Regions from separate parts of the Homo sapiens genome. Here regions 1 and 3 are each linked to region 2. The links come from fine-mapping of genetic effects on gene expression. A gene starts in region 2. Each other region holds a variant in brackets. All regions are shown on one strand. Distances are between the middles of the regions. Region 1 overlaps SHLD1 (shieldin complex subunit 1). Region 2 holds the start of SHLD1 (shieldin complex subunit 1). Region 3 overlaps SHLD1 (shieldin complex subunit 1).

What was found. PIP is the estimated chance that this variant, and not a neighbour inherited with it, causes the effect.
Region 1: its variant is fine-mapped to the expression of SHLD1 in whole blood (INTERVAL, PIP 0.97).
Region 3: its variant is fine-mapped to the expression of SHLD1 in whole blood (TOPMed, PIP above 0.99).

The regions. Positions count from the first base shown.
Region 1 is chr20:5,780,275-5,784,274 of GRCh38, forward strand. The region is part of intron 2 of SHLD1 (shieldin complex subunit 1); the gene reads left to right. Among named protein-coding and RNA genes, the nearest start is that of SHLD1, 32 kb to the left of the region's middle. The variant A/G (reference allele first, on the strand shown) is at 2,063.
Region 2 is chr20:5,748,448-5,752,779 of GRCh38, forward strand. SHLD1 (shieldin complex subunit 1) reads left to right here and starts at 1,954. Exons shown (of 3, transcript NM_152504.4): 1 at 1,954-2,032. RefSeq lists an enhancer at 1,780-1,829.
Region 3 is chr20:5,771,537-5,775,536 of GRCh38, forward strand. SHLD1 (shieldin complex subunit 1) reads left to right here. Exons shown (of 3, transcript NM_152504.4): 2 at 1,326-1,507. The coding sequence starts at 1,330. Among named protein-coding and RNA genes, the nearest start is that of SHLD1, 23 kb to the left of the region's middle. The variant T/C (reference allele first, on the strand shown) is at 1,570.

The DNA of each region.
Region 1 (4,000 bases), 32 kb after region 2:
GCTTGACTGTAAGAGTTCAGTCATATCATCTGTTATCAAATTCTTCAGTCAAAATCCAGACACAGAGTTGGCAAGGGGTTGGGGTTCACAGTGGAGGCGTGGCGTAGTCTTCTGGTGGCACAGCACAGCCCAGCAACAGGCACGCTGGAGAGAATACCCAGAAATCCAGGCAGGTGGCAGGCAGTGTGCAGGTGCCTTCTCAGTGAGTAGCAAGGTCCCAGCTTCCAGGTTGGAGTCAGTGTCACAGTTCTAACCCCTGGAAGAGTAGTAGGCCAAGGAAGGGTGACCTTAGATTTAGGATATAGCAAGGACCGCTGCAAAACCCAGTTACAAGAACATGGGCCCAGGCTTAGGCTTAACTTGTGTAAAGGATTCCCCATTTCACCTTGCAGCTGCCCCTGACCATGGGCCTATCCCTGCCCTGCTTTTCCCAGCCAGGCTTTTTGAAGGGGCTGCCTGCCTTCCTCCTCACTTCTTCATCTCAGGATTGCTCCTCATTCCCAGGCACATGGCCTCTACCTCCATTCCCCTCTGGACTAAGCCTGCCCTTACTCAGATGCCAATGATCTTCCCTAGGAGCCAAACTGGATGGACGCTTCTCTGTCCTTTTGCTATGTGCCCAACTGCCGCATCACTGTTCATACTCTGGAGGAGCAAATTAGTAGCAAGGACATGAGACTTAAGAGCACTTTCCAGAAAACTACTGGGCTGATAAGAATCTGAGAGTGTTAGAAAAACCTCAAAAGCCTTAGTCATTCCAGTATGAGTATGTAAAGATGGGTAAAACTAGGCTATATATGTCTAATAAAGACACAGTCCATCTGGCCTGAAGTTCCCACCCAGCCACTCCTCATGAAATGATGGTAAAATAAACAACTTTTCACTTAAAGCAGGTGCAGGATTATAAAATCCTCCCCTCAGCCCTTCCTAGTGAGATATGGCAGAAGACCTGCTACTGCCAAACAGGGCTTCCTGAGAGCGAGTGCAGAGGCTCATGCCTATAATCCCAGCACTTTGGGAGGTCAAGGTGGGAGGATTGCTTGAGCCCAGGAGTTCGAGGCTACAGTGAGCTATGATTGTACCACTGCACTCTAGCCTGCGGGACAGAGTGAGACCCTCTTTCTAAAGAAAGAAAAATATAGAGTGTTCCTGGAACACCTTTTCCATAACATTCTTCTGTTTAGGTCCCTTTGAGATGTCATATTACACTACTTTTGTCTTTAGACTGAGTCTCGCTCTGTTGTCCAGGCTGGAGTGCAATGGTGCAATCTCGGCTCCCTGCAACCTCCGCCTCCTGGGTTCAAGCGATTCTCCTGCCTCAGCCTCCTGAGTAGCTGGGATTACAGGCACCCACCACCCTGCCCAGCTATTTTTTTGTATTTTTAGTAGAGACAGGGTTTCACCATGTTGGCCAGGCTGGTCTTGAACTCCTGACCTCAAGTCATCCGTCCACCTTGGCCTCCCGAAGTGTTCGGATTACAGGTGTGAGCTACCACACCCGGCCAATCTTACACTACTTCTTTCCTTCCAGCTCCAATCAAAAAGCTCCTCTGCCTTGTTTTCGGGACTCTGTGTAATCTGCTGCCTGGAATATTTGTTCAAAATATTTAATAACCAATACAGCAGTATTGCAATATTTCAACAACCGGCACGACTGTACAGGTGCACACGAGCTGAATAGAGGCCCCTGCTGCTGTCCAACTGCACATTAACACAGGCCTGCCAGTCCTGTCGGGCTTGCTTTTAGGCTGAGCCAACTGTTAATGTCTTAGCTGCATTGTTCCCCTCTCTGGAATGTGCCCCCTCCTCCCTGGTCAACTCCAGTCCACTCCAGAGATGGCTGAATTGAATCCATTAATTAGTCCCAGGTACAGACTTGCTGCTGGACTTGAACACCCTGTCTGTTAGATACTTGTTTTCTTTCTCGTTTGCTGCTTGGCTCAAGGGAAGCACAGAGTATACAGAATGGAAGAGCGGAGTTAAGAAACAGATGATCTTGGTTAAACCTCTCAAAAGCAAGATCACAAAGGTCACCCGAAGGCCCAGTCCCACATGTACTGCT[A/G]GAGCTTGATAAACTCTGGGTAGCTCATGTGGCGTATCTCACCTGCACCCTCTGGAACCTTTGTCCTGGAGAGCATCCAAGGTACTTTCTAATATAGGACAAGGAGTTTTCTCTGAAGTCGTTGTTAGACATTAACAATACAGATGTAGGAAATATCAGCCCTTTCCTCAAACTTGAACTTCTGCCTAAGAGCAGTGTCGGGGAAATTGGTTGCATGTAGACAGCAAATTGAATGTTAAACACAATAAGTCTTTGATGATTAAAGGCCATAGCTGGCAGGCAGTTATAAGTTTAAAGTAAATAGTGATTTAATGCACCTTTAGTCTTATTCTGGGAATCTGTCAACATCCCACTCTTCAAAGCCCATTTTGTAACTTGTGTATTTAGGCATTTCATCCAAGGAATTTAGTATTTAAGAGTAAAAAAAAGTTTGTTGTCTTCCTCTCTATAATTCATATTTCTTTGGAATTCTATAAAATTTTATTTCCAAAAGGAATGAATTATAAGCTCTTAGATAAAAAAACTCAAAATAAAATTTATATACTAGTTGTCAAATTCTTGATGTGTTGTTGTAGTTTTAAAATAGGAGTCAGGGTATATTTTAGATATATACATAAAATGCTAAAGACATTTTATAGTTGCATTAAGTGATATCCAACCTAGTGGCTAATACCCAGTCACTAGACCAAACCTGAGATACAGAGAGTATGGAGAGGAAAGGAAAGAAGGGAACAATGGTTATTGAACCAATTCTCTGAGAAATAACTGAGGACACAATTGGGTACATTTTATCAGATACCAAGTAGATGGGCTTTATTTGGAAGGTTTGGGTATTCTGTGTGGCAGTGCTTCTCTGCTTTTGTTGCCTCTTCCTAGATTTGGGGTTTTTGTTGTTGTTGTTGTTTTGAGACAGAGTCTCACTCCATCACCCAGGCTGGAGTGCAGTGGCAAGGTCTCGGCTCACTGCGACCTCCGCCTCCCAGTTTCAAGGATTCTCCTGCCTCAGCCTCCCGAGTAGCTGGCACTACAGGAGCCCGCCACCACACCCGGCTAATTTTTGTATTTTTAGTAGAGACAAGGTTTCACCATGTTGGCCAGGCTGGTCTCAAACCCCTGACCTCAGTTGATCCACCTACCTTGGCCTCCCAAAGTGCTGGGATTATAGGCGAGAGCCACCATGCCCAGCCTCCTAGATTGAGTTATGCAGATTCAGCTATCTAGACTGGATTTTCAGCTCCAGAATCGGATTTTGAGCTCTTTGCATGCTGCTGTTAGAAGGCAGCAGTGAATTTTAATTGTATGGCCTGAGGCGTGAAGGATAAACCATAAGTGTATATGACTGAGGCTCACAGAGTTAGAGAAGGTTACAGTCTCCGAGCTGGTGGTTCCTCACAGCTCTTTAGGAACTACAAGTTTGAGATTGAGTGGGGTCATGAGCTTGTGGGGCCCTGGATGCTCTACCTTATGCATCCAGGCAGGCATTCATCCAAAGAAAGGGTGCCAGAACCAGGAGGAGTTCGAAAACCACTAAGCGGCCGGGTGCGGTGGCTCACGCCTGTAATCCCAGCACTTTGGGAGGCCGAGGCTGGTGGATCACTTGAAGCCAGGAGTTTGAGACCAGCCTGGTCAACATGGCAAAACGCCGTCTCTACTAAAAATACAAAAATTAGCCAGGTTGGTGGTGTGAGCCTGTAATTCCAGCTACTCAGGAGGCTGAGGCAGGAGAATTGCTTGAACCCGGGAGGCGGAGGTTGCAGTGAGCCGAGATGGCGCCACGGGCACTCCAGCCTGGGCGACAAAGTGAGACTGTCTTAAAAAAAAAAAAAAGAAAAAAGAAAACCACAGAGCCCAGCTAATCCTCTCATTTTCCACATGGGGAAGTTGAATCCCAGGATAATGAAGAAAATCACCCAAGGCCATGTAGTAACCTGGCAACTC
Region 2 (4,332 bases):
ACTTTGAAATGATCAATTTGCAGGGCCGGGTGCGGTGGCTCATGGCTGTAATCACAGCACTTTGGGAGGCCCAGGCGGGAAAATCACTTGAGATCAGGAGTTCAAGACTAGTCTGGCCAACATGGCAAAACCCTGTCTCTACTAGAAATACAAAAATTAGCCGGGCATGGTGGTGCACGCCTGTGATCCAGGTACTAGGGAGGCTGACACACAAGAATCACTTTAACTCAGGAGATGGAAGTTGAGATCGCACCAGGACACTCCAGCCTGGACGACAGAGTAAGACTGTCTCAAAAAAAAAAAGAAAAAAAAAAGGACGATCAATTTGCTTTTTGTTCAAATCTCTTTCTGCATTCTTTAGCCCCTTTTCTGCCTATGAAGCTAACCTTGTCTGCTCAGCTCATTGGAACATTCAATCTTATAGAATGAGATGCTGCCTGATTCTAGAATTGTAAACAAAAGCCAATTAGATCTTTAAGCTAAATCTTAATTTTGTAATTTTGTCTTTAGACAGTCTCTTTTTTGTGGTCCTGCAGTTGTGGCAGTTATGTAGTTATCTGCATGCATCAGAATATTACAATATTTTCATCCTCATCTTTAATTTCTACTTTTCATATTTTTAAAATGTAGACATTCAAGTTTATTTATTTATTTATTAAAACCATTTTGTAGGCCGGGCACGGTGGCTCACGCCTGTAATCCCAGCACTTTGGGAGGCCCAGGCAGGCGGATCACGAGGCCAGGAGATCGAGACCATCCTGGCTAACACGGTGAAACCCCGTCTCTACTAAAAATACAAAAAATTAGCCGGGCGTGGTAGCGGGCGCCTGTAGTCCCAGCTACTTGGGAGGCTGAGGCAGGAGAATGGCGTGAACCCGGGAGGCGGAGCTTGCAGTGAGCCGAGATGGCGCCACCGCACTCCAGCCTGGGCAACAGAGCGAGACTCCGTCTCAAAAAAAAAAAAACAAAACCATTTTGTAGAGACAAGGTCTCCACTGTGTTGCCCAGGTGGGTCTTGAACTCCTTGCCTCAAGTAATCCTCCCATCTTGGCCTCCCAAAGCAGTGGGATTACAGGGGCATGCCACCCCACCCTCTCCAAGACATTGAATTTTATTTATTTTTTTTTTTGAGACGGAGTTTCGCTCTCGTTGCCCAGGCTGGAGTGCAATGGCACGATCTTGGCTCACCACAACCTCCACCTTCTGGGTTCAAGCGATTCTCCTGCCTTAGTCTCCCGGGTAGCTGCGATTACAGGCTGCACCACCACACCCAGCTAATTTTGTATTTTTAGTAGAGACAGGGTTTCTCTGTTGGTAAGGCTGGTCTCGAACTCCCGACCTCAGGTGATCCTCCTGCCTCGGCCTACCAAAGTGCTGGGATTACAGGCGTGAGCCACTGAGCCCAGACGAATTTTTTTTTTTAAAAGGCAAGGTCTAGCTCTGTTGCCCAGGCTGGACTGCAGTGGCAAGAACATGGCCAACTGCAGCCTTGACCTCTCAGGCTCAAGCAATTCTCCCACCTCAGCCCCCCAACTACCTGGGCCTACAGACATGTGCCACCATGCCTCGCTAATTAAAAAAAAATTTTTTTTGTAGAGACAGTGTCTCCCTATGTTGCCCAGGCTGGTCTCAAACTCCTGGCCTCAAGTGATCCGTCTCAGCCTCCCAAAGTGCTGGGACTACAGGCGTAAGCCACCGCTCCCGGCCAACATTTAAATTTTTGAATATTTTTTCTGTTCCCTTAGGGTTTACCAAGCACATTTATCGACAAGCCTCCTCAGGAAATTGCCCAAAATAGCCACATGTGGCAAGCCTCATTGACAGGCCAAAAGCCTCAGTCAACATGGCCGCGACCGGCTTCCATTGCCCTTCACTGCCCGCAGTAAGGATGGCTCCGGTGACTTCCTTCGAACCTCACATTTCCCATAAAAAAGATGGCGCCATTGCTTCCGCGTTCCGGTTGCGGATGGTGAGTGTGTCGGGGGGCTTGGCGGCTTTTCTCCTCAGTTTTCTGGAGTGCTTTGGAGGAGAGGTAAGCGCGGGATGGGATGGGGGGGGGTTGGAGTGGTGGGGGCGGGGGTCACAGCAATGCATCTGATCGTTCTCTCTCAATTAGGAAGTTATGGAGGCTTTCCTAGGCATGTCAGGATTTCCTGCTAGCTCCCCGCCCCTTCCGCCCCAACACACGGTGTCTGCAGCCTGTGCTTTGGGGAATTTTGGGAATTTGTGGATAGTGAGTATGGATAAGCTTCGGTTTTGTTGTTTTTTTTTAAATTTTTTCAGTGACCTGCCACTTCAGGAGGTTCTGCTAAAAAACCAACAAACAAAAAAACAGCTTTCTTGGGAAATTTCTATTCACCTACTAAGTAAAATTTGCCCATTTAAAGCGTAAAAAAAAATCAAGCCTAGCATAGTGGCATTCGCCTGTAGTTCCAGCTGCTCAGGAGACTGAGGTGGGAGAATCGCTTGTGCCCCGGAGTTCCAGGCTGCAGTGAGCCCAGATCGCGCCACTGCACTCCAGCCTGGAAGACAGAGCAAGACAACGTACCCAAAAATAAATAATAAAGGGTAACATTAAGGGTTTTTTTGTTGTTGTTGACAGAATTGTGCATCTATTACTGTGATCTCATTTTAGAATACTTTCATCACTCCAAAGAAAAATCCTGCCTCCAGTAGCAGTCATTCTACATTCACCACGTCCACTCCGCCTCAAGTCCTAGACAATTGCTAGTATACTTTCTGTCTGTATAGCCTTGCCAATTCGCACGTTTGATATAAATGAAATCATACAGTGCAGCTGGCTTCTTTCATTAAGTATAATGTCAATGTTTTTGTGACTAGCTTCTTTCATGACTTTTGTTCTTTTTTTAAACGGAGTCTCATGACTCTCACTCTGTAGCCCAGGCTGGAGTATAGTGGCACGATCTTGGCTCACTGCAACCTCTGCTGCCCAGGTTCAAGCTAGTCTCCTGCCTGAGCCTCCCGAGTAGCTGGGACTACAGGCGCCTGCCACCACGTTCGACTAATTTTTGTATTTTTAGTAGAGACGAGGTTTCACCATCTTGGCCAGGCTGGTCTTGAACTCCTCAGCTCTTGATCAACCTGCCTCAGCCTCTCAAAGTGCTGAGATTACAGGTGTGAGCCACCACGCCCGGCTATCTTCTTATACTATGTATAATATTTTCAAAGCTTGTCTTTGTATCATGTGTCAGACTGTTAGCAAATAAATAAAACTCTGTAAACTATTTTAAAGCGGTTTATTCTGAGCCAGTATGATTGACCATCGCCCAGAGAGAAAACACAAACCCAAAAAGTCTTTAGTAAGTGATCCCGAGGCAGTTGGGTTATAGTTTGTTTTTTTTACATTTTAGGGAGACAGGAGTTAACAGGCAAAGACATAAATCAATACATGGAAGGTATACATTGGTTAGACCCAAAAAGGTGGATATGTCCAAGGGTGGTCTTAGAAGTCTTAGGTGGATTTTAGGGATTCTTTAGCTGACAGTTGCTTGAGAGAGTTAAGCTTTGTCTAAAGACTTGAAGTCAGTAGAAAAGAATGCTTGAACTAAGATAAGGGAGTTGTGTGGTTCAAGGTCCTTGTTACGTAGATGAAGTGTGAGTAGCAGCCTCAGAGAATAGATGGGCTAGGTGCCATGACTAGAGATGGGCTGGGCTCCATGGCTCACACCTGTAATCTCAACGCTTTGTGAGGCCGTGGCAGGCAGATCACTTGAGGTCAGGAGTTCAAGACCAGCCTGGCCAACATGATGAAACACCATCTCTACGAAAAATAAAAAAATTAGCCAGGCACGGTGGCGTGCGCCTGTAATCCCAGCTACTTGGAAGGCTGAGACACAAGAATTGCTTGAACCCAGGAGACAAAGGTTGCAGTGAGCTGAGATCGCACTACTGCACTCTAGCCTGGATGACAGAGTGAGACTCCATCTCAAAAAAAAAAAAAACAAAAAAGAGAGAATAGATGGTAAATGTCTCTTTTTGGAAATTTAGGTGTCAGAATTAATCTTTCCTGGATCTGGGAAAGGCCTAGAAAAGGAAATCCTGGCTGCATTAATGGAGATTCTCTACAGATGCAAATTTCTGTTACAAAAGACAGCTTTGTAGCTTTGTAGGGCCATTTTAAAATATGTCAAAGAAATATATTTTGGGGTTTTTTTTTTTTTTTTTTGAGGCAGAGTCTTTGTTCTGTCACCCAAACTGGAGTGCAGTAGTGCGATCTCGGCTCACTGCAACCTCTGCTTCCCAGGTTCAAGCAGTTCTCCGTCTCAGCTTCTGGAGCAGCTGGGATTACAGGTGTGCACCACCACACCTGAC
Region 3 (4,000 bases), 23 kb after region 2:
CTGTTCATATCTTCCACGCACAAATGTAAGGCCTTTTTCATCTTAACTAAGCACTTATGTACTGTGGCCATAACTCCATAACTTTTTTTTTTTTTTGAGACAGAGTCTTGCTCTGTAGCCCAGGCTGGAGTGCAGTGGTGCAATCTCGGCTCACTACAACCTCCGTGTGGCTATAACTTTTGCAGTTTGAGGTGTGTCAGCAAGACTAACATGAATTTCTTTTTCCTTCTTCACAATTTCACGGATAGAAGATTCATTGTTACAGTAGATCTTAGTAGCCTAGGCATATGATTTTTTTCTTTGCTTATTGAGTTGAGAACTTTTACCTTTTTTTTTTTTTTTTTTTTTTTTTTTTGAGATGGAGGTTTGCTCTTGTTGCCCAGGCTGGAGTGCAATAGCACGGTCTCCGCTCACTGCAACCTCCGCTTCGCAAGTTCAAGGGATTCTCTTGCCTCTGACTCCCAAGTAGCTGGGATTACAGGCACCCACCACCAAGCCTGGCTAAATTTTTGTATTTGTAGTAGAGACAGGGTTTCACCATGTTGGCCAGGCTGGTCTTGAACTCCTGACCTCAGGTGATCCACCCACCTCAGCCTCCCAAAGTGCTGGGATTACAGGTATGAGCCAGTGTGCCTGGCCAACTTTTACCTTTTTGCCTAAAGAAAGTATTTTGTGGCCTATCTTTGGCATATCTGACTTGCTGGCATCACTACTCTTGTGTTTTGGGGCCATTAATAAGTAAAATAAGGGTTACTTGAACACAAGCACTGTGATACCACAACAGTCCATCTGGTAACTGAAAAGGCTACTGAATGACTAAGGGGCAGGTAGCATGTACAGTTCAGATACGCTGGACAGGGGTAATTAATGTCCCAGGTGGGATGGAGTGGGACAGCATGAGATTTCATTACAATACTCAGAATGGTGCACAATTTGAAATTTATGAATTGTTTATTTCTGGAGTTTTCCATGTAATATTTTTGAACCACAGTTGGGTGAGATCAACTGAAACTGCAGAGAGCAAAATCGCACATAAGGGGGGACTACTGTAAATCATTCTGATTTCACTGTTGTTTGACCTTTAAAATTTTTTGGGTGGGTATGGTGGCTCACACCTATAATCCCATCACTTTGGGAGGCTGAGGTGGGAGGATTGCTTGAGCCCAGGAGTTCAAGACCAGCCTGGGCAACTTAGTGAGACCTGATCTCTACAAAAATAAAAATAAAAATAAAAAACAAATAAAATTCTTCAAGCTCTGTCTCCAATGAAGGATCCTGCTATGTGGTGCCTTTTGTACTGAATTGTTTTCTTTTTTCCATGGCAGGACTATGGCAGCCAGGGACGCCACTTCAGGCAGCCTGTCAGAGGAGAGCAGTGCTTTGGACCTGCCATCAGCGTGTGACATAAGAGATTACGTCCTGCAGGGACCCAGCCAAGAAGCCAACAGCGAGGCTTTCAGTTCTTTGGAATTCCATTCTTTTCCTTATTCTTCTGATGTGGATCCAGGTAATAAGCAGAGTTTAAAACAAACTAACTTAAAAACAACTAGCAGCAATACGGGTGTGTGA[T/C]AGTTTGTTTCTCTCTCTTCCAATAGCAGATCTCTGAGAATGCTTCATTGTCTTAGGCAGAAAAACATCTTACCTAAGCAAAGCTTTCAGGAGGAACTTCAAAGGACAGCTTACCTGGCACAGCAATGACAAGGAGCTGTTTCCTGGATGTCTTTTTGTTATTGTTGCTGTTAATCTCAGGTCTCTTTCTAATCTCCCTCAAAATGAATTCAGAAGCAGGGGAATATTTGGTTCAACAAAGAGAGAGTGGAATTTTTTTTTGTTTTGTTCTTTTAAAACTTCAGAAAATAGCAATGTGGGCCTGTTATGTGTGATGAGTAATAAAAATAGAGACTTTAGCATTCCTTGTATGAAGTATGCTGTGGATTTAAGTAACAACCTTTCTACAAGGTTTCCTGACTAGATTGCCGAAACATCTATTATTTAAACTAATGATAATTCCCTGATGTAGGTAGTGGCCGTCTTTAGTGGTAAAGCCCTCTCTTTCATATTAATTACCTGATCTGAGTCTGGAGGCCCGCAGACCTGGATTTATTTATTTATTCATTTATTTCTTGTTAGTTTTGGTTAATCCCCTGGGTTTATCACACAGACCTGGATTTAAAGTTCAGCTCTGCCACTTGCTGGCTATGTGACTTGGGGCGTGTTCCTTAACCCCTCTGAGCTCCAGAGTCGTCTACAAAATGGTGATCAGAATGCTTGCTCCACCCAGTCAGGTTTAGCTTAAGGTAAACCTGTAAGATACTTAGCATGGTTTTTCTGCCATCGATGGGTGCTCAGTCAATGTTGTTGTCGTTAATATTAAGAAATCCAAATGGCCGGGTGTGGTAGCTCACACCTGTAATCCTAACACTTTGGGAGGCCGAGGCGGGTGGATCACCTAAGGTCAGGAGTTCAAGACCAGCCTGGCCAACATGGTGAAACCCTGTCTCTACTAAAAATACAAAAATTAGCCAGGTGTGGTGGCGGGCGCCTGTAATACCAGCTACTCGGGAGGCTGAAGCAGGAGAATCGCTTGAACCCGGAAGGTGGAGGTTGCAGTGAGCTGAGATCGTGCCACTTCACTCCAGTCTGAGCGAAAGAGCAAAACTCTGTCTCAAAACAAAAAACAAAAAACAAACAACAACAAAAAACAAATCCAAATATATATTTTTAGAAAGAACTCATTGTGGGTACTAAGCAAATGTAGGCTTTAATGATGATGAATTCAGTGATGACTACAGGTAGGATGTGTAACTGTCATTGCCTTCAAGAATTCTATGGAGAAATATGTTTGGGATTCTCTGCTGATTTTCAGGACACAGAGTAATCAGGATCAGTAAGTCTCCTGTTTAATTTAGTACCTGACTGTGTTAGTTCATTCTCACACTGCTATAAAGAGATACCTGAGACTGGGTAATTTATAGAGAAAAGAGGTTTAATTGGCTCACAGTTCTGCAGGCTGTACGGGAAGCATAGAAGCACCTGCTAGGCATCAATCAGGGCGGAAGGCAAAGGGGAAGCTGGCACTTCACATGGCTGAAGCAGGAGGAAGAAAGAGAGGGGGAAGGTGCTACACACTTTTAAACAACCAGATCTCATGGGAACTCAGCACCAAGGGGATGGTGCTGTAAACCAATTAGGAGGAACTGCCCCATGAACCAATCACCTCCCACCAGGCCCCACTTCCAACACTGGGGATGACAATTCCACATGACATTTCGGCAGGGACACAAATCCAAACCATATCACTGACCAAGAATTAGATAATTCTTTATCCTTTTCCTTTCTAGACTTAACATCTTAGTTCCTTTAACCTTCCCTTTTTTCCCTGCCATCCTGCTGCCTCTACATGACTTTCCATCCCTAAAACTGATTTTGTTCATCATCCCTGGGTAGCAACAGCATTTCTTAGAATGAGTGAATGGAGGCAGTTGAACAGAACTTTGTTTGTGTATGTATTTATTTATTTAGAGACAGGGTTTTGCTCTGTGCCTAGGCTGGAATACTGTGGTGCCATCATAGCTCACTGCAGCCTTGAACTCCTGAGCTGAAGCTATCCTCCTGCCTCAGCCTCCCAAGTAGCTGGGATTACAGGCTCACATCACCATACATGGCTTTTTTTTTTTTAATTTTTTTGTAGAGACAGGGTCTTGCTGTGTTGCCCAGGCAAGTCTCGAACTCTTGGCCTCAAGTGATCCTCCCACCATGGCCTCCCAAAGTGCTGGGATAATGGGAGTGAGCAACCATATCCAGTTTGAACAGAACTTTAGAAGTATTAGCATGTTGAAATACTTCAAGGCAATGGCTCTATTCCCTTAGGGAATTCAGTGTGGACTCAGTTTTTACTTTTTATTGCCTGTTAGTTGACTAATCTGTAGAAAAGCAACTGTTATTAATTGGAATTGGTTGACAGCTCTAAAAATAAGGAGCATGTTGAAATATTTATGTA